Homo sapiens: one gene and its partners. The protein of the gene in region 1 interacts with the protein of each later gene in a biochemical or structural test. Each region holds a gene or a part of one and is shown in the gene's direction. Other genes may lie near its edges.

Region 1 (7,028 bases):
GTCCCACCCCATTAGAATATAAATTGGATGTGGCATAGACCTTGTCTCTTTTATTCCCTGCAGCACTCCCTGATGGGGGCGGCAGAAAAGTAACGAGCAAATACATCTATAACTGCAAATTGTGGTAACTCCTACATAAACAACTGGCAGCAATTGCTTATATTTGAGGCACTTAAAAATTTTTAAGCTGGCTGGGCGCGGTGGCTCATGCCTGTAATCCCAGCACTTTGGGAGGCCGAGGCGGGCAGATCACGAGGTCAGGAGATCGAGACCATCCTGGCTAACACGGTGAAACCTGTCTCTACTAAAAATACAAAAAATTAGCCGAGCGTGGTAGCAGGCGCCTGTAGTCCCAGCTACTTGGGAGGCTGAGGCAGGAGAATGGTGTGAACCCGGGAGGCGGAGCTTGCAGTGAGCCGAGATTGCACCACTGCACTCCAGCCTGGGTGAAGGAGCGAGACTGTCTCAAAAAAAAAAAAAAAAAAAAAAAAAGAAATTTTTTTAAGCTGCTGGGCGCGGTGGCTCACGCCTGTAAATCTCAGCACTTTGGGAGGCCGAGGTGAGCGGATCACCTGAGGTCGGGAGTTCGAGACCGGAACATGGTGAAACCCTGTCTCTACTAAAAATACAAAATTAGCGGGGCGTGGTGGCTCATGCCTGTAATCCCAGCTACTTGGGAGGCTGAGGCAGGAGAATCGCTTGAACCCAGGAGGCAGAGGTTGCAGTGAGCCGAGATCGCGCCATTGTACTCCAGCCTGGGCAAAAAGAGTGAACTCCATTTCAAAAAAAAAAAAAAAGGCCAGGCGCAGTGGCTCACGCCTGTAATCCCAGCACTTTGGGAGGCCGAGGCAGGCGGATCACGAGTTCAGGAGATTGAGACCATCCTGGCTAACACGGTGAAACCCTATCTCTACTAAAAATACAAAAAATTAGCCGGGTGTGGTGGCGGGCGCCTGTGGTCCCAGCTACTCGGGAGGCTGAGGCAGGAGAATGGTGTGAACCCAGGAGGTGGAGCTTGCAGTGAGCCGAGATTGCACCACAGCACTCCAGCTTTGGTGACAGAGCGAAACTCCGTCTCAAAAAAAAAAAAAAAAAAAATTTAAGCTTAGAGGCCGGCCACAGTGGCTCAGCACTGTGCAGGCCAAGGCAAGAGGATCACTTGAGGTCAAGAGTTCGAGACCAGCCTGGCCAACATGGTGAAACCCTGTCTCTACTAAAAAATACAAAAATTGGCCAGGCGCGTTGGCTGGCGCCTGTAATCCTAGCAACTTGGGAGACCAAGGCAGGCAGATCACCTGGGGTCAGGAGTTCAGGACCGGCCTGGCCAACATTAAAACATATAAAACCCCGTCTCTACTAAAAATATAAAAATTATCCAGGCATGGTGGCGTGTACCCGTAATCCCAGCTACTCGGGAGGCTGAGGTAGGAGAATTGCTTAAACCCGAGAAGCAGAGGTTGCAGTGAACCGAGATTACGCCACTGCACTCCAGCCTGGGCAACAGAGCGAGACTCTTTCTCAAAAACAACAACAACAACAAACAAACAAATTAGCCAGGCATGATGGTGGGCACGTGTAATCCCAGCTACTCGGGAGGCTGAGGCAGGAGAATTGCTTGAATGTGGGAGATGGAGGCTGCAGTGAGCCGAGATCACACCACTGCACTCCAGCCTGGGCGACAGGGAGACTCTGTCTCAAAAAAAAAAAAAAAAAAAAAAGTTTATAAGGCTGAATTACCGTACTGTCAAAACAAGCTGCTATCTGAGCCGTTTTAAGGGTGAGGAAGTCTGGAAACTGATAACTTGCCCAGGACACACAGTGAGTTCAAGGCATGGAACTCAGTCTCCTATCTTAAGAATGTATGTGGGCCGGGCATGGTGGCTCACGCCTGTAATCCCAGCGCTTTGGGAGGCCAAGGCAGGCAGATCATCTGAGGTCAGGAGTTCAAGACCAGCCTGACCAACATGGAGAAACCCTGTCTCTACTAAAAATACAAAATTAACCAGGTGTGGTGGTGCATGTCTGTAATTCCAGCTACTCAGGAGGCTGAGGCAGAAGAATCACTTGAACCCGGAAGGCAGAGGTTGCGATGAGCCGAGATTGTGCCATTGTACTCCAGCCTGGGCAACAAGAGTCTGGAACTCTGTCTCAAAAAAGAAAAAAAGAATGTATGTGTAGCAGGCTTTTTTTTTTTTTTTTTCCCCCGAGACGGAATCTGGCTCTGTCGCCCAGGCTGGAGTGCAGTGGCGCAATCTTGGCTCACTGCAAGCTCCGCCTCCCAGGTTCACGCCATTCTCCTGCCTCAGCCTCCCGAGTAGCTGGGACTACAGGCACCCGCCAGTACGCCGGGCTAATTTTTTGTATTTTTAGTAGAGACGGGGTTTCACCGTGTTAGCCAGGATGGTCTTGATCTCCTGACCTCGTGATCCACCCGCCTCGGCCTCCCAAAGTGCTGGGATTACAGGCGTGAGCCACCGTGCCCGGCCTATGTGTAGCAGGCTTTAATGGTGGGCCTGCAGCCATGTCATGGAAAGAAGCTGACCTGAAGATCTCAGTTCTTTCTTCTTCTACTAACTAGCAAGCATACCTCAGTTTCTTCTTTAAAGCGGGATGATCCGATTATTATCATGTTGGGGTTCACTTTTTATTTTTTCAGTGTGTCCCAAAGCAGCAGCACGTTTAGGTATAGCCCTCTTGCTATCAGCTTGAGGGCCTTAGAGCCAGGAAGGGAGCCAGGACATTTATAGGCACAGAAACTAGGGTCACATACAGATCCCCCCACCGCATGTGCTAGGGGTACATGCAGACCTTCCCAGTGCTGACCAACCTGCAGAGAAGAAATGGGCCCTAGGTATTCTGGATCTGATTCTTTTTGGTCTTCAATTATTTTTATTTTTATTTTTTTAGAGACAGGGTCTCGCTGTGTTGCCCAGGCTGGCCTCGAACAGCTGGGCTCAAGCGATCCTCCTGCCCTAGCTTCTTGAGTAGCTGGTGGTCATCAATTCATTTTTAGCAAATTCTGCAGAATTTTTTTTTTTTTTTTTTTTTTTGAGACGGAGTCTCACTCTGCCGCCCAGGCTGGAGTGCAGTGGCGTGATCTCGGCTCACTACAACCTCCGCCTCTTGGGTTCAAGCAATTCTCTGTCTCAGCTTCCTGAATAGCTGGGACTGCAGGCGCCCGCCACCATGCTTGGCTAATTTTTTTGTATTTTCAGTAGAGACGGGGTTTCACCATCTTGGCCAAGTTGGTATTGAACTCCTGACCTCGTGATCCATCCGCCTCGGCCTCCCAACGTGCTGGGGTTACAGGCGTGAGCCACCGCGCCCGGGTTCTGCAGGAATTTTGGAGAGACTCAGGCAGTAATAAAATAGGATGTTTACAGAAATTAAAGATGGCGGCCGGGCGCGGTGGCTCACGCCTGTAATCCCAGCACTTTGGGAGGCCGAGGCGGGCGCATCACGAGGTCAGTAAATCGAGACCATCCTGGCTAACCCCGTGAAACCCCGTCTCTACTAAAATACAAAAAAATTAGCCGGGCGTGGTGGCGGGCGCCTGTCGTCCCAGCTACTCAGGAGGCTGAGGCAGGAGAATGGCGTGAACCCGAGAGGCGGAGCTTGCAGTGAGCCGAGATCGCGCCACCGCACTCCAGCCTGGGCGACAGAGAAAGACTCCGTCTCAAAAAAAAAAAAAAGAAATTAAAGGTGGCTGGACACATTGGCTGGTGCTTGTCATCCGAGCTACTTGACAGGCGGAGGCAGGGGGATCGCTTGAGGCCAGGCGTTTGAGACCAGCCTGGGCAGCATCATGAGACCCTGTCTCTAGAAAAAATAAAAAAATTAGCTGGGCATAGTGGCGCAGGTTTGTAGTTCCAGCTACCGGGGATGCTGAGGCGGGAGGATTGCTTGAGCCCACGAGTTCGAGGCTGCAGTGAACTATTATTGCACCACTGCACCCAACTTGGGTGACAGAGACCCCATCTGTTTGTTTGTTTGTTTTTGAGACAGAGTTTCGCTCTTGTTGCCCAGGCTGGAGTGCAATGGTGCAATCTTGGCTCACCGCAACCTCTGCCCCCAGGTTCAAGCAATTCTCCTGCCTCAACCTCCCGAGTAGCTGGGATTACAGGCATGCGCCACCATGCCCAGCTATTTTTTTTTTTTTTTTGTATTTTTAGTAGAGACGGGATTTTCTCCATGTTGGTCAGTCTGGTCTCCAACTCCCGACCTCAGTTAATCCCCCAAATTGGCCTCCCAAAGTGCTGGGATTATAGGCGTGAACCACTGTGCCCAGCCCGAGACCCCATCTCTTAAAAACAAAATAAAACAAAACAAAAACGGCCAGGTGTGGTGGCTCACACCTGTAATCCCCAAACTTGGGAGGCCGAGGCGGGTGGACCACTTGAGGTCAGGAGTCTGTGACCAGCTTGCCAACATGGTGAAACCCCATCTCTACTAAAAATACAAAAATTAGCTGGGCATGGTGGTGCGCACCTGTAATCCCAGCTACTCAGAAGGGAGGCTGAGGCAAGAGACTCAATTGAACCCAGGAGGCGGAGGTTGCAGTGAGCCGAGATTGCCCCACTGCACTCCAGCCTGGGTGACAAAGTGAGACTCGCTCTCAAAAAAAAAAAAAAGAAGAAATTAAAGATGAAAGAAAACAAACATTCCAAAAAGTTGAGAAAGAATTGCCTTTTGTCCAGCCCCACTCCCAACCCCCCAACCCTGTTGTAATGTGTGATCTGTTTTCTTCCAGTCTCGTTTCCTCTCAGTCCATCCACCCTTCATGGGGCCAGAGCCCTCTCTCCAGAATCTGAGCAGCAATGCCGTTTGCTGAAGACAAGACCTATAAGTATATCTGCCGCAATTTCAGCAATTTTTGCAATGTGGATGTTGTAGAGATTCTGCCTTACCTGCCCTGCCTCACAGCAAGAGACCAGGTGAGCAAGGGAAGTGACAGCCCGACACTGGCCTGGGGGCAGGGCTGTGGAATTCAAAGCTCAGCCCCATCCTAGTTCCTCACCCAAGCCTGGGCTGGCTCCTTCCTTCTTCCTCTTGCTGTGTCTTGCTCCTTGTCCTTGCTGCTTTTCTTTTTTTTTTTTTTTTTTGAGATTGAGTCTCGTTCTGTCGCCAGGCTGGAGTGCAGTGGCACGATCTTGGCTCATTGCAACCTCCGCCTCCTGGGTTCAAGTGATTCTCCTGCCTCAGCCTCCTGAGTAGCTGGGATTACAGGTGCGTGCCACCACGCCCAGCTAATTTTTTTGTTTTTAATAGAGACGGGGTTTCACCATGTTGGCCAGGATGGTCTTGATCTCTTGACCTTGTGATCCGCCTGCCTCGGCCTCCCAAAGTGCTGGGATTACAGGCGTGAGCCACCGCACCCTTGCTGCTTTTCTAACTTTTGGATGGAGTGTGGCTCAGGGTGGCGTTGCTGACTTCGCCGAGCTCCCCCTTGTGTTGCTTTTGTGCACTGCTCAAAAATATGGCGCTGGCTCTCTGAGATTTCCTGGCTCTGGTCCACTTGCCCACTTTTTTTGGAACCTCCTATTTCCTTCATCTCTCTTGCCCTTCCTTGTCCTGCTCAGTTTTGATTCCATTCTCCTTGTCATGGGGCCCTGTCCTGGCACGGAGCTGGGACTCAGGTTTGAGAGCTGGCAGGATCAGGGTCGCTCTAGCCCCAACAGAACTTGCTGCAGGCCCCTGGCACTCACTAGCTGGTGAAACGGGCACAACCCCTCCCCGTTGTAGCTGCTGTTCTCAGATTGGACCCCTGTGCTCCAGAGGGTACCTGTTGGCTCTTTTGGGGCCTCCTGTCCTCAGATTTCTCAGGAGCCCCATTGTTGTCTCCGCTGTCCTCCCACACAGATCGCATTAGTATGCAGGTCTGTTTGGAGTTTGCTCCTCCCTCTTGTATTTTGGGGTTTATAGGGATATCTTGTTTTATAGTAAATATTTTCTGTGGGTTTTCTTTATTTTCTTTAAAAAATTTTTTTTTGAGACGGAGTCTCGCTGTGTTGCCCAGGCTGCAGTGCAATGGCATGATCTCAGCTCACTGCAACCTCTGCCTCCTGGGTTCAAGTGATTCTCGCGCCTCAGCCTCCTGAGTAGCTGGGGTTACAGGCGCATGCCACCACACCTGGCTGATTTTGTATTTGTAGTAGAGATGGAGTTTCACCATGTTGGCCAGGCTGGTCTTTATTTTTATTTTTGAGACAGAGTCTTGCTCTGTCACTCAGGCTGGAGTGCAGTGGCACGATTTTTTTTTTTTTTTGAGACGGAGTCTCACTCTGTCGCCCAGGCTGGAGTGCAGTGGTGTGATCTCGGCTCACTGCAAGCTCTGCCTCCTGGGTTCACGCCATTCTCCTGCCTCAGCCTCTTGAGTAGATGGGACTACAGGCGCCTGCCACCATGCCCGGCTAATTTTTTGTATTTTTAATAGAGACGGGGTTTCACTGTGTTAGCCAGGATTGTCTCGATCTCCTGACCTCATGATCCACCCGCCTCGGCCTCCCAAAGTGCTGGGATTACAGGCGTGAGCCACTGCGCCCAGCATTTTTTTTTTTTTTTTTTTTGAGATGGAGTCTCGCTGTGTCTTCCAGGCTGGAGTTGCAGTGGTGCCATCTTGGGTCAACCTCTGCCTCCTGGGTTCAAGCAATTCTCCTGCTTCAGCCTCCTGAGTAGCTGGGATTACAGGTATATGCTACCACACCCGGCTAATTTTTGTGTTTTTAGTAGAGACGGACTTTCACCATGTTGGTCAGGCTGGTCTTGAACTCCTGACCTTGTGATCCTCGGCCTTCCAAAGTGCTGGGATTACGGGTGTGAGCTACCGCACCTGGCTATTTTCCTTTTTCTAAAAATCTAGCTCCTGCAGGATTCTGTGGGTTTTTGTTTCTGCTGTCTGGTTGCTTGTTTTTATGTGAGAATTCAGGTAGACATAAAAACTCTAGGGCTGGGCACGGTGGCTCACGCCTGTAATCCCAGCGCTTTGGGAGGCCAAGGCGGGTGGATCACCTGAGGTCAGGAGTTCGAGA
Region 2 (7,028 bases), on another chromosome or scaffold:
TGCTGTTGGTGAGAAGCACCGTGGATTTGGGATGGAGTTGGGCAGAGTGTTCACAGAAGGTAGTGGGTAAGAGCGGGCCCTTCCTACTGGGGTGTGAGGAGGTAAGACGACCTCAGTTTACGAGGATGTTCTATTTTTTTCCATTGAATGATCCCTTCTGGGCAGGGAAATAAGGAAGAGAGGTGGTTGTGAGTTTTTTGTTTGTTTTTAGAGACAGGGTCTCACTTTGTCACCCAGGCTGGAGTGCAGGGCCCAATCACAGCTCACTGCAGCCTCCAACTCCTGGGCTTAAACAATCCTCTCGCCTCAGCCTCCCAAGTAGCTGGGACTACTAGTGTGTGCCGCCACATCAGGCTAATTCTATTTTTTTTTTTTAGAGTCTCTTTTGTAGGGTCTCACTATACACTGTATTGCCCAAGCTGGTCTTAAACACCTGGACTCAAGCGATTCTCCCACCTCGGCCTCCCAAAGTGCTGGGATTACAGGTGTGAGCCACCGCCCCGACCGAGGTGGCTGTGTTTTGATTTTGTTTTTATTTTAATGATAAAATGAAAAGGTGGGATGTGGAGTCATCGGCTCAGAGCCGAAAGGGACGCTGAAGCCCCCAACATTGGAGCTGGCGCCACCCCCATGGGCCAGCACCCTCCCACCCTCACTTCTGCGGCCTCTGCCTTGAAACCAGGCCTCGGCCATGGCTCCTGAGCATCCATAAAGCCCTCGCTGTTGGGAGACACAGCAGGCCTTCTTTGAGATGCTGTCCCACAGCCAAACCCTACAAGTTGTGATTGTTCCAAAGACACCGAGTGCCAAACGGCAGTTGAGGAAAATGCCGTCCTCATGCTTGCTGGACCCCCCTCTGAAGAGCAGAAAACTTTCTTACGGGAAAGCCTGGCTGTTGAAGCAGATTTGAGAACCGTTTGATGATGTCCCCCACCTTGGGGACAGCAGAGAAGCCACAGGTCCTGGCACCACTGGCCTGTGTCACATGCTGGGCAGGGCCTGTGCTTCCCTTAGTTGAGCAGTCCTCCACCGTGGACCCGCAGTTCTGAAACCCAGAATAGCCTACAAGCAGAAGGTTTTCAGAAAGCTCACAGCAAAGTCATTTTGGACAGAAAAAGCTGACCTGTACTGACTTCCAGCCTTTCTTCCCACTTAGTGGCCATCAGTGATTTACAGCTGGGGGCGGTTTGGCAGTGTCTGGGGACATGTGTGGTTGTCTCAACTGGAGAGTGTTTCTGGTGTGCAGTGGGGGGAGCCAGGGGTGCTGCTCAGCCCCCTGCCGTGCGCAGGACAGAATCATCCACCCAAGATGCCCACAGTGCCACAGGCGACAGACCTGCATTAATTATTTGGGAAAAAAATTGAGCTTGCTCCTGCTCACACTGGACAGCAGAATAAACTTCTGATTGGGCAGAGGGTGGAAATCAGGGGGTCCCCAGCTCCTAGGATTCACCTCCTTGCTCCCTCTCCCCTTAGTGTGTGGATTTATTTTATCTTTTGTTTTGTTTTGTTTTGTTAGAGACAGGGCCTCACTTTGTTGCCCAAGTTGGCCTCAAACTCCTGGGCTCAAGCAATCCTCCATAGTTTGTGAATTTCAATGTGTGCAGCCTCCTGGGACCTTAGTAGAGCAAATGATCATGGGACACAGAGTCTCTTGGGGATCCGTGGCATCCCCTAGCCCAGGGTGTCTAAGCTGGGGCACTTCTGCTCAGCTCTGTCCCAGGGTAACAGGGATGGGGTAGGGTGGAGACCCTGAGGCTAAGAGGTTCTCTGGGATGTGGCGGCGGGGGCCGGGGGGGGCGGTGTTCCAGGAGGGAAAGCAGCACGTGCAAAAGCCCTGGGGTACAGAGGCACCGGCGGCACTGGAAGAGAGGAGTGTGACTCAGTGAATGCAACTCTTTCCACTTTCTGAACCCTCATTGGGTCCCTAGCCACCTGCCACCCTGTCCAGTTCTCACACCTCAGTTTAAGAGAGAAGGAAACAGGTACACCAAAGAACCAAAGATGAGATTTCTTGGTTTATTCTGTGTTAGTTCCCTGCGAAGGAACGCACATCCCCCTCCACACACACACCCCTGCCCCCCACACCCCTCAGCGTGGATCGTGCTAGGCCCTGTGTGCCTGGAATGCTAAGCCGAGTTCCAGCTGTCACTGGTAGGATCTTGCGTGTGCCACCTGTCTGGGCCTGTCACTCCCTCTGTAAGAGGGGGCTGTGACCCCCGCCTTCTAGGTTTATGCGGGGACTCAGCCAGGTCTGATTTCTTTTTTTTTTTTTTTTTTTGAGATGACGTCTTGCTTTGTCACCCAGACTGGCGTGCAGTGGTGCGATCTCAGCTCAGTGCAGTCTCCACCTCCCAGGTTCAAGCAACTCTCCTGCCTCAGCCTCCCGAGTAGCTGGGATTACAGGCACCCGCCACCACACCCGGCTAATTTTTGTATTTTTAGTAGAAGCCAGGCTGGTCAGGAACTCCAGACCACTTCAGCCTCCCAAAGTGCTGGGATTATAGGCCTGAGCCACCGCTCCTGGCCCAGGTCTTGTTTCTGCTGCTTGCTGTTGCCTCTTCCAAATCTGAGGTCACCAAGTGAGGTGTGTCTGCCTGGGGATCCTGACCTGATGCCGCCTGTTACAGAATCATTTCCAATGAAACCTCTGAAGAGATGTCGGCACCATTCTCAGCTAAAGACACCTGGTTGGGTGTGACCCTCATCTCAAAGACCCCAGACTTTGAAGAGAAACTCTTTTCTTGAGGCAGGGTCTCACTCTCTTTCCCAGGCTGGAGTGCATTGGTGTGATCACAGCTCACTGCAGCACGGACCTCCTGGGCTCAAGCGATCCTCCTGCCTCAGCCCCTCAAGCAGCTAGGGCTATAGATGTGTGCCACCACACCCAGCTAATTTTTTAATGTTTTGCAGAGATGGGGTCTCCCTATGTTGCCCAGGCTGCTCTTGAATTCCTATGCTCAAGTGATCCCCCCGCTTTGGCCTCCCGAAGTGCTGCTGGGATCACAGGTGTGAGCCACTGCGCCTGGTCTTTTTTTTTTTTTCTGAGATGGAGTTTTGCTCTTATTGCCCAGGCTGGAGTACAGTAGTGCGATCTTGGCTCACGGCAACCTCCACCTCCCGAGTTCAAGTGATTCTCCTGCCTCAGCCTCCCAAGTAGCTGGGATTACAGGCGCGCACCACTACGACCGGCTATTTTTTGTACACTGGGTTTCACCTGTTGGTCAGGCTGGTCTCGAACTCCTGATGTCAGGTGATCCGCCTGCCTCGGCTTCCCAAAGTGTTGGGATTACAGGCATGAGCCACTGTGCCCGACCAGTCTTTCTTTTTTTTTTGAGACGGAGTTTTGCTCTGCCACCCAGGCTGGAGTGCAGTGGCTCTATCGCAGCTCACTGCAGCCTCCACCTCCCGGGTTCAAGCGATTCTCCCGCCTCAGCCTCCTGAGTAGCTGGGACTACAGGTGTGCGCCACCATGATTGGCTAATTTTGTTTGCATTTTTAGTAGAGATGGGGTTTCACCATGTTGGTCTCAAACTCCTGACCTCAGGTGATCCACCTGCCTCTGCCTCCAAAAGTTCTGGGATTACAGGCGTGAGCCACCATGCCAGGCCAAAAATTACCATCTTAATCAGTTATAAATGCACAGTTCAGTGGCTTTAAGCACATTCACACAGCTATGTAGCCATCGCCACCATCATCTCCAGAAGTTTCTCATCTCCCCAGGCTGAAATTCTGTCCCCATGAAACATTCACTCCCCAGCCCCTGGCACCCCCAATTCCACTTTTGGTCTCTGTGAATCCAACGACTCTAGGGACCGCCTAGGAGGGGAGTCACACAGGTTTTGTACCTTTGTTTCTGGCTTATTTCACTGAGTGCGACGTCCTCAAGGTCCGCCCATGTTGTAGCCTGGTCAGGATTTCCTTTTCATGGCTGCGTAGCGTTCCGTCGTGTGGCTAGGCCACATTGTGTTGATCCACTCACCTGTCCGTGGACACTTGGGCTGTTTGCTTTTGGCTATTGTAATGCTGTTGTCAAAACGTGCTTAAAAATAAAACAAAAGAAACTCCGTAAACCAAAAATCTTCACCTTTCGGGTGGCATGTGTCTGTTTTCCTTGGGCTTGGGGGTCAGGAGACCTGACTGGTTTGCTCTCTGAACCCTGTTGGCCGGGGCGGATGACGTCAGCTTTTGTGGTTTCACTTTCTGGTGGTGGTTGACTGCCGTGGGCCCTGATGTGTCGTACATGAGATCTTTGGATTCTGGGACTGGCTGCCCGCCGGCTCTAGGCAGTCCTGATCCCAGACCTCAAAGTTCTGGGCTGTCCATTGTGTCCTGAGATGGGGGCGGAAAACTCATTACCATCCCGCAGGAGCTTTCAGGAAGACCGTAACTCCCTGTCCAGCGACACAAAACACAGCTCTTGTAGATTTCTCCCCCTTTAAAACATTGAGCTGTGATTCCCACACCGCTGTGATCCCCACACCGTGAAATTCAGTGGCATTTGGTGCCTTCACAGGGTTGTGCAACCATCACCACTCTCTGGTTCCAGAGCTGTCTCATCGCCCCAAAAGGGAGCAAGGAAGCTGGTCCCCACCAGCTGTCACTCCCCTTCCCCTCCCCAAGCCCCGGCACCCACGCGTCTCCTTCCTGTCTCTGGATGGGCCTGTCCTGGACATTTCATAGAAATGGAGTCGGTGTCACACCCTGTGTGTGCTTTGGGTCTGGCTCTTTTGCTCTCTGTTTTGTTTTGTTTTTTAATGATTGCTGATGGATGTTGCTTTCCCTGAAAGGGAAACAAAGCTGTGGGCACACCCAGTGTGTCTGGGACTATGCTTGTTTAGTGGCGTGGAGGTCCACGTCGCCGGTGTCATCTGAGTCTGACGTCAGCCACTGTTTAAAGCGTGGCGGGCCAATGCCTTGCTTGTCTCTGGCGCGGGGTGGGTTATGCGGTCAGGCAGCCCACGCCTCATTTTCTAGGGGGTGGTGGCTGTTCACCTCATGTAGAGGCATTTTAGGGGAACCAAGACACTGAACGCCTCTGATCTTGAGTGTGGGGGCAGGTCAGGCGCCTGCCGGGCGCGGATCCTGCCGTGCCTGTGGCTCCAGTGGCCTTGAGTGAACACCTCCATCCCCAGTCCTGCCGCATAGGTCACTGCGCCGAGGTCATGAGACGGTGTTGTGTCAAGGGCCTGGTGCACCCACAGGCTCTTCAGGTCCTCCTCTTCTAGTCCAGCTTTCTCCCAGTGGGAGCTGTGGATGTTGAGGCCGGATCATCCTCTGGGATGGAGCCGTCCTGGGCACTCCAGGGCACTGAGCAGCGTCCCTGGCCTCCCCCCACTCCATGTGAGACAACACCAAGTGTCTCAGCACATCCATCGAGAACCGCTGGTCTGGGAGAGAGACAGAATCTGGAGAGACATGCACGCACACACACACATGCGCGCGCACACAGCTTCAGCAAAATCCAGTGGGTCAGTAGAATCCACGGCTTTCCTCAGCATTTGCCTCCTGGAGGAGGCCGGGTATGGTGGCTCACACCTGTGATCCCAGCGCTTTGGGAGGCCAGGGTGGGAGGATTGCTTGAGGCCAGGAGTTTGCCAATGTTCATGGGCAGGTATTTTACATAGTTGACGTTCTAGGTCTGCGAAGTGCTCAGGTAGGTCATCTGCATGGTTTTAATGCTTTTGGTGCCCTGCCTCTGATGCTGTCTACACGGGGATGGTTGTAGGTGAAGGCCTCTGTGTACGCGTGCACGGGTGTTAACCTACGTGTCTCGGGCCATTAGACATCTGTGCACTTAAAGTTAAAATGGACATTTGCATAGACGTGATAGGAAGTGTCGTTTTCTTATAAAAGAAGCTGCCCCTCGGGCAGCTGGCTCCTGGGACCGCAGCACAGTGAGCAACGCGCAGCTGCTCCCTCCCTCCGTGTCCCTCGGCCACCGCCCTTCACTGCTCCCTTCCGTGTGATGACAGCCCGTTTGTTCTCCTGTCTATGTGATCCTGGGCATGCGACCACGCGTCCCTGCCCAACCTGGCTCAGTTCAGCTGGAGACAGGGCCGACCCGCTTGTTGGAGTCGTCACGAGGACTGAGGTGCGTCCTGAGATGCCTGCTTGCCAGGTGTTAGTGTCGGTTTGCTGGGGCCGCGGTGACAGAGTGCCATAGACCAGGCAGCTGAAACAGAGTTCATCGTCTCTCAGTCCTGGAGGCCGGAAGTCCATGATCAAGGTTCTGTCGGGGCTCGTTCCTTGTGAGGACGTGAGGGCAATCTGGTGTCCCTGCCGTGTGGCCGCGTCACCCATCTCTGCCCTCGGTGTCCCTGCCCTGTGGCCGCGTCACCCATCTCTGCCCTCGGAGTCCCTGCCGTGTGGCCGCGTCACCCATCTCTGCCCTCGGAGTCCCTGCCGTGTGGCCGTGTCACCCACCTCTGCCCTCGGTGTCCCTGCCGTGTGGCCGCGTCACCCACCTCTGCCCTCGGTGTCCCTGCCGTGTGGCCGCGTCACCCACCTCTGCCCTCGGTGTCCCCGCCGTGTGGCCGCGTCACCCACCTCTGCCCTCGGTGTCCCCGCCGTGTGGCCGCGTCACCCATCTCTGCCCTCGGTGTCCCTGCCGTGTGGCCGCGTCACCCATCTCTGCCCTCGGTGTCCCTGCCCTGTGGCCGCGTCACCCATCTCTGCCCTCGGAGTCCCTGCCGTGTGGCCGTGTCACCCACCTCTGCCCTCGGTGTCCCTGCCGTGTGGCCGCGTCACCCACCTCTGCCCTCGGTGTCCCTGCCCTGTGGCCGCGTCACCCACCTCTGCCCTCGGTGTCCCTGCCGTGTGGCCGCGTCACCCATCTCTGCCCTCGGTGTCCCTGCCGTGTGGCCGCGTCACCCACCTCTGCCCTCGGAGTCCCTGCCGTGTGGCCGCGTCACCCACCTCTGCCCTCGGTGTCCCTGCCGTGTGGCCGCGTCACCCACCTCTGCCCTCGGTGTCCCCGCCGTGTGGCCGCGTCACCCATCTCTGCCCTCGGTGTCCCTGCCCTGTGG
Region 3 (6,505 bases), on another chromosome or scaffold:
AATTCAGGGCCTACAATGGAGGCATAACTCAATCATTTAACATTATAGGTTGAGTACTTTCTATGCACTAGGCTTGGTATTAGTCAACACAGCTAAAACATAATTTGGATATCATCTCTGTCTTGAAGTTGTTCATAATATAGAGATATTAGCAGTTGTGGTCACAAAATGTGACACCACAAAGAGAAAATTCTAAATGTTATGGCATCGTCAGCAATAGGCAAGCAGTAGAAACAAAGACTGCATCACAGTGTCCAGATTGAAGAATCAGAAAGGAAGTTTGTATTAAAAACCAAGTAGAGCAGTTTTCTACTTATCAGAAAGCCTGCAGTACTGCTCAACTTTTAATTGAAATGTCTGTTTTCAGCATCACTCTCCATATAGCGGGAATTCTCCCTGAAGGAAGTATGAAATCAAAGTTTAGATTTAAAAAAAAATCAAGAATTCCCATGGAAGAGATATAGTACTCCAAATTGGTTTTACATTTCTTCTGATAGAGAAAAATTATTCACAAGATCAATGATTTGTTCAGGTTTAACATTCATCAGCTATGTGAAAAGCAAAATATGTGTTTACTATATAACACATAAGTACCAGAATTATGATTGATAGCAGTATTCTGATATATATGTTGTTAGATTCAAAACCAATATATATTGAAAAACTCCTCAAGAATATATGTCATTTAAAATGACATTAGATAGTACTTCAATTCGGTCTCTAATTTCTGTTTGGAATGTGGGATAGAAGTAAAGATGAAGACCAAAATTACATAAGCTTGAGCCATTAGAGAAATTAAATATAACACACGTAAACATGGAGAGTTTATTTCAAATATCCTGATGTCAAAGCCACAAATTATGAAATTGTATTTGGTTTTCATACTAGTACCAAAACATCAAGATGGCATCCACAATTCACTAAATTTCTTTCGAGCAGCCACAGTTTGTACTTTGCCAACCCACATATTCAGCCAAGTACATAAACATGTCCCCATGATAGATGTAATTTGTGGTCAAAAGACAGAGCATTGTGGAGACCCTGCAGTCATCCTCAGACAAAAAAGGCTTCAGAATGATGATTTCCAATTCCTATCACAAGAACAAAAAACCAAACACCGCATATTCTCACTCATAGGTGGGAATTGAACAATGAGATCACATGGACACAGGAAGGGGAATATCACACTCTGGGGACTGTGGTGGGGTGGGGGAGGGGGGAGGGATAGCATTGGGAGATATACCTAATGCTAGATGACGAGTTAGTGGGTGCAGCGCACCAGCATGGCACATGTATACATATGTAACTAACCTGCACAATGTGCACATGTACCCTAAAACTTAAAGTATAATAAAAAAAAAAAGGCTTCAGGATGGATCATTTACACTGGGTCAAACATTGACGTTTAAAGGTTTTACTGTGTGATTGAGGTTTATTATTGGGCATCTTATCAGAATAAAATAATGTGTGGTCTGTGGCATATTTTAAAAAATTTGTAGAAAAGTAGAAGATAAAAAAAATTACAAGAATACAAAGATCTCTTTGAAACAGTTTATGTGTTAGCTTTTTTCCATATGACATTTATTATTTTCCTTCTGTGCCCTTGCCTTGATACATTAAGTGCAGAGCGCAGTTTCCTTCTGCATTTCTAAAACCAGTCCCTTGCTAAAGCTACCTGCAAGAACACGGCAGAGAGGTCAAAAGTGCATGGCCTTTGCAGCTGGACAAATTTGAATTCTAATCCCTTCTCTGCCCTCTAGTGACTATTGGACTTGAGCAACTCATTTTACCTGACTCAGTTACAAAATATATAAAATTAGGGTAAAAGACCTACCATTGTAGGTTGTTGTAGTCATGTCATAATCTACATAATGAGCCAACATAGTCTTGTAGCTGGCTGTAGGGCAGTAAGTAGCATCTCTCAAAGTAATGATAAGTTTACTATTGTTATTGATAGTGTCCTTAGGAGCTCTGCTACTTGAGGGCTGTTTATATTCCCCTTGTTATCTGCCCTCACCTTTTGACCCTCACTTTCCTGCTCATTTCTAAGAACTACTTTATCTGTATCCGATAAAGCTTTCCCTCTTATGTTTCCAGGCAGCTCCAAAAGCCCCAGGCAGGGCAATGTTGAAGACAAGCAAGCAGACAGACACTATTATCTTCCACCTTATAGGGAACATGAATGTGCTTTTAATGACCAGAGATTCAGGAGAAATGCACTAAATCTCCCTGAATATAAAAGGACCATGCCAAAGAATGAGCTGTTTATGGTCACTTTTAATGTGATAGATAATAATAATTTATTTGGTGGTTTCAAATTTAGAGAGTAAACTTCCAAAAATTAATGAAAACTGTTATATTAGTAAGCCATTGACTAAATTTTTTAGGTCTTCACTCATTCTAGCAGCATGTTCATTGAAGATAGTGCCAGCCAGGCATGGTGGCTTATGCCTGTAATCCCAGCACTTTGGGAGACTGAGGCAGGAGGATCACATGGGCCCAGGAGTTTGAGGCTGCAGTCAGCTATGACTGAACCACTGCACTCCAGCCTGAGCAATAGAACAAGACCCTGTATCTTAAAAAATAATAATTAATTTATTTAAAAAGAAGATAGTGCCTAATAGTTGTGGACATTGGGAAGAAAGAGTATGACTTTTTGGTCCTACTTTACAATAGTTTCTCAAAAATTCTCATGTCGGCAGGACACGGACCCATAAACTTACTTGACTACAGGAGTAGCCCTTCTAAGTGTCACCCAAGACGTAAATTAAGTCCATAGCATATTATAATACATCATTTCAATTTTTAATTCACAGTGTAATATCTCAGGGCAATTGTTCTTTAGATAAAAATTGAATGAGATTATTTAATATCAGAAATACATTACTTAAGTCATTCTGTATAAATGTATAAATGTCTTAAAACCATTGGGATGTGAAATTATGCAAGATTTACCTAGCATACCTATGTTGTCATTGTTTCAGGAAAAATTATTAGTATTTTTACTGTATCTCTTTTTTTACATTTTATTATTATTATACTTTAAGTTTTAGGGTACATGTGCACAATGTGCAGGTTTGTTACATATGTATACAAGTGCCATGTTGGTGTGCTGCACCCATTAACTCGTCATTTAGCATTAGGTATATCTCCTAATGCTATCCCTCCCCACTCCCCCCACCCCACAACTTTATCTTATTTTTAAAACTTACTTTTTTAATGCATGTATATATGTTTCTTGACATTTTGCCTTCTGGTAGGAATTTGGGACTGCTGGATCATAGGGACAGCATACACATTTGTGATCATATTATTTTAAATGATTAATCATGTTGTGTAAACAGTTCACATGGTCTCACACAGAAAATCTTTGATCAAAAGCTTTTGTTTTTCTTAAATCATGTAAGAATAAGAGATTCTGTTTTGTGAAAGGACCCATTTGTTTTCCAGGGCTATGCAATCTCGCCTTAGCTGAAGCAGACTAAATGAGCAATAGTGACATGTATCAATGAAATAATATGCACACTTTTGGTTTACCTTGCAGGTGCACCCACCCTATCCCCAAGTCTTCTCGGCTTACTGCTGCCTGCCTTTGGCATCCTTGTCTACTTGGAATTCTGAATGTGTTGTGACAGCTGCTGTTCCCATCCCAGCTCAGAAGACACCCTTCAACCCTGGGATGACCACAATTCCTTCCAATTTCTGCGGCTCCATCCTAAGCCAAATAAATTATACTTTAACAAACTATTCAACTGATTTACAACACACATGATGACTGAGGCATTCGGGAACCCCTTCATCCAAAAGAATAAACTTTTAAATGGATATAAATGATTTTTAACTCGTTCCAATATGCCTTATAAACCACTTAACCTGATTCTGTGACAGTTGCATGATTTAACCCAATGGGACAAGTTACAGTGTTCAATTCAATACTATAGGCTGTAGAGTGAAAGTCAAATCACCATATACAGGTGCTTTAAATTTAATAACAAGTTGTGAAATATAATAGAGATTGAAATGTTGGTTGTATGTGGTAAATGTAAGAGTAATACAGTCTCTTGTACTTTCCTCACTGTTTTGGGTACTGCATATTATTGAATGGCCCCTATCATTCATGACATCTTGAGTTTTCTTGAAAAGACAATAGAGTGTAACAAATATTTTGTCAGAAATCCCATTATCAAATCATGAGTTGAAAGATTTTGACTATTGAAAACCAAATTCTAGAACTTACTATCAGTATTCTTATTTTCAAAGGAAATAATTTTCTAAATATTTGATTTTCAGAATCAGTTTTTTAATAGTAAAGTTAACATACCATATAGATTTTTTTTTACTTTTATATTCTACTCTGAAGTTATTTTATGCTTTTCTTATCAATTTCAAATCTCAAAAATCACAGCTCTTATCTAGAGTATCATAATATTGCTATATTTGTTCATATGTGGAGTGACAAATTTTGAAAAGTAGAGTGCTTCCTTTTTTATTGAGATGTGACAGTCTTTACATGGTTAGGAATAAGTGACAGTTAAGTGAATATCACAATTACTAGTATGTTGGTTTTTCTGCTTCATTCCTAAGTATTACGTTTCTTTATTGCAGATGTCAGATCAAAAAGTCACCTGTAGGTTGAAAAAGCTACCGTATTCCATTTTGTAAAAATAACAATAATAATAATAATAATAATTAGTTTTAAGCTCATTTCCCACTTCAATGCAATACTGAAAACTGGCTAAAAATACCAAATCAATATACTGCTAATGGTACTTTGAAGAGTATGCAAAACTGGAAGGCCAGGAGGAGGCAAATAATATGTCTTTCCGATGGTGTCTCCCAAGTGTTGGTGCTTTGGGTTTTTATAAGTTGTGAAAAGGAAGATGCACATTTCTTCATTCTCCATGGTGTGCATGGAAATGTGTTTGAGTGTGGATGTAAAAGAAATCGAGTAATAAAGAATTAGCTGGCTTGTGAAATAGTGCAGTGTTGGATGCTTCAAGAGGTATAATCCTATTTTATTAGCACAAACTTGCTAGCTAATTAGAGTTTATCTTTTTAGAAAGGACACCGTATAGGTTCGTAAAAAATATTTACAGGAAGCAAAATAGATCTATTACTACTTTACCGACTTTACCCCCTTTCTTTAATTTGTATAATTTTTGTACTATATATCGATGTGTAAATGTTTAGAGTCTTCATTATGAAAATATCAATAAATATTTCATTAGTTTACATTTAACTCTGGTATAAAATGAAACTTTTAAAAATAAGTGAAATGGATGATTTCCCAGTGGAAGTATGTCAACAGTCTTAAGATCATTGCCAGATTTCATAAAATATTTAAGTATTTGAAAAAGAAACAAAATGTCTTCATACTTTAGGGAAACGAATACCCTGTATACCTTCTGTACAAATGTTTGTGTTTTCATTGTTACACTTTGGGGTTTTACTTTTGCAATGTGACCCATGTTGGGCATTTTTATATAATCAACAACTAAATCTTTTGCCAAATGCATGCTTGCCTTTTATTTTCTAATATATGATAATAACGAGCAAAACTGGTTAGATTTTGCATGAAATGGTTCTGAAAGGTAAGAGGAAAACAGACTTTGGAGGTTGTTTAGTTTTGAATTTCTGACAGAGATAAAGTAGTTTAAAATCTCTCGTACACTGATAACTCAAGCTTTTCATTTTCTCATACAGTTGTACAGATTTAACTGGGACCATCAGTTTTAAACTGTTGTCAAGCTAACTAATAATCATCTGCTTTAAGACGCAAGATTCTGAATTAAACTTTATATAGGTATAGATACATCTGTTGTTTCTTTGTATTTCAGGAAAGGTGATAGTAGTTTTATTTGATACTGATAAATATTGAATTGATTTTTTAGTTATTTTTTATCATTTTTTCAATGGAGTAGTATAGGACTGTGCTTTGTCCTTTTTATGAATGAAAAAATTAGTATAAAGTAATAAATGTCTTATGTTACCCAAGAAAGAACAACTGTCCTTTCAATTTACCTCAAGTTTAAATTTTTTAGAAGGTTTTCATTACAAGTTCGATAGCAGGGAATAAATATTCTGGTTAAGCAACAGTTCAGTATTTGAAGTACTACAAAAAGTACACACATAGAAACACACACAGAGTCATTATTACATTGAAATAAGTTCACCTGGTAAATAACTTCAACCCATAAAGATGTCAGTGAATATCATTCAATGTAAAGTGAAACACTAAAGCCAGCTGCTAGATGCTAAGAAAATGAGACTTTGTAACCCTGAATGAGCGAGTCTGGAATAGAGGTATCTGCATAATGGCATGAATCTATAGGAGGAGTCTGCTACAGGTAAAGCTTCTGAGTCCTGAGACAGGCTGGGCCCAGAAAACTGCATCCCACGGCTGCCTGTGTCCTGCCTTCCCATTTTCTCCTGTGTTCTGATCGTGGTTTCGCATTGGAATTCTCATCTCCCTTCCTGTTTCATGAAGCTTGCTTCACCCTGGATT

Evidence for each region.
Region 2: the proteins of MAVS (region 1) and SGTA form a complex in vitro, tested with the Homo sapiens proteins (one study listed by BioGRID).
Region 3: the proteins of MAVS (region 1) and CNTN1 form a complex in vitro, tested with the Homo sapiens proteins (one study listed by BioGRID).

The regions. Positions count from the first base shown.
Region 1 is NC_000020.11:3,849,808-3,856,835, forward strand, and holds part of MAVS (mitochondrial antiviral-signaling protein), read left to right. Parts: intron 1-4,750; 5' UTR 4,751-4,817; coding exon 4,818-4,934; intron 4,935-7,028.
Region 2 is NC_000019.10:2,773,270-2,780,297, reverse strand, and holds part of SGTA (small glutamine-rich tetratricopeptide repeat-containing protein alpha), read left to right. Parts: intron 1-7,028. UniProt on the Homo sapiens protein: Co-chaperone that binds misfolded and hydrophobic patches-containing client proteins in the cytosol. Mediates their targeting to the endoplasmic reticulum but also regulates their sorting to the proteasome when targeting fails.
Region 3 is NC_000012.12:41,066,415-41,072,919, forward strand, and holds the end of CNTN1 (contactin-1 isoform 1 precursor), read left to right. Parts: intron 1-3,544; coding exon 3,545-3,621; 3' UTR 3,622-6,001; downstream 6,002-6,505. UniProt on the Homo sapiens protein: Contactins mediate cell surface interactions during nervous system development.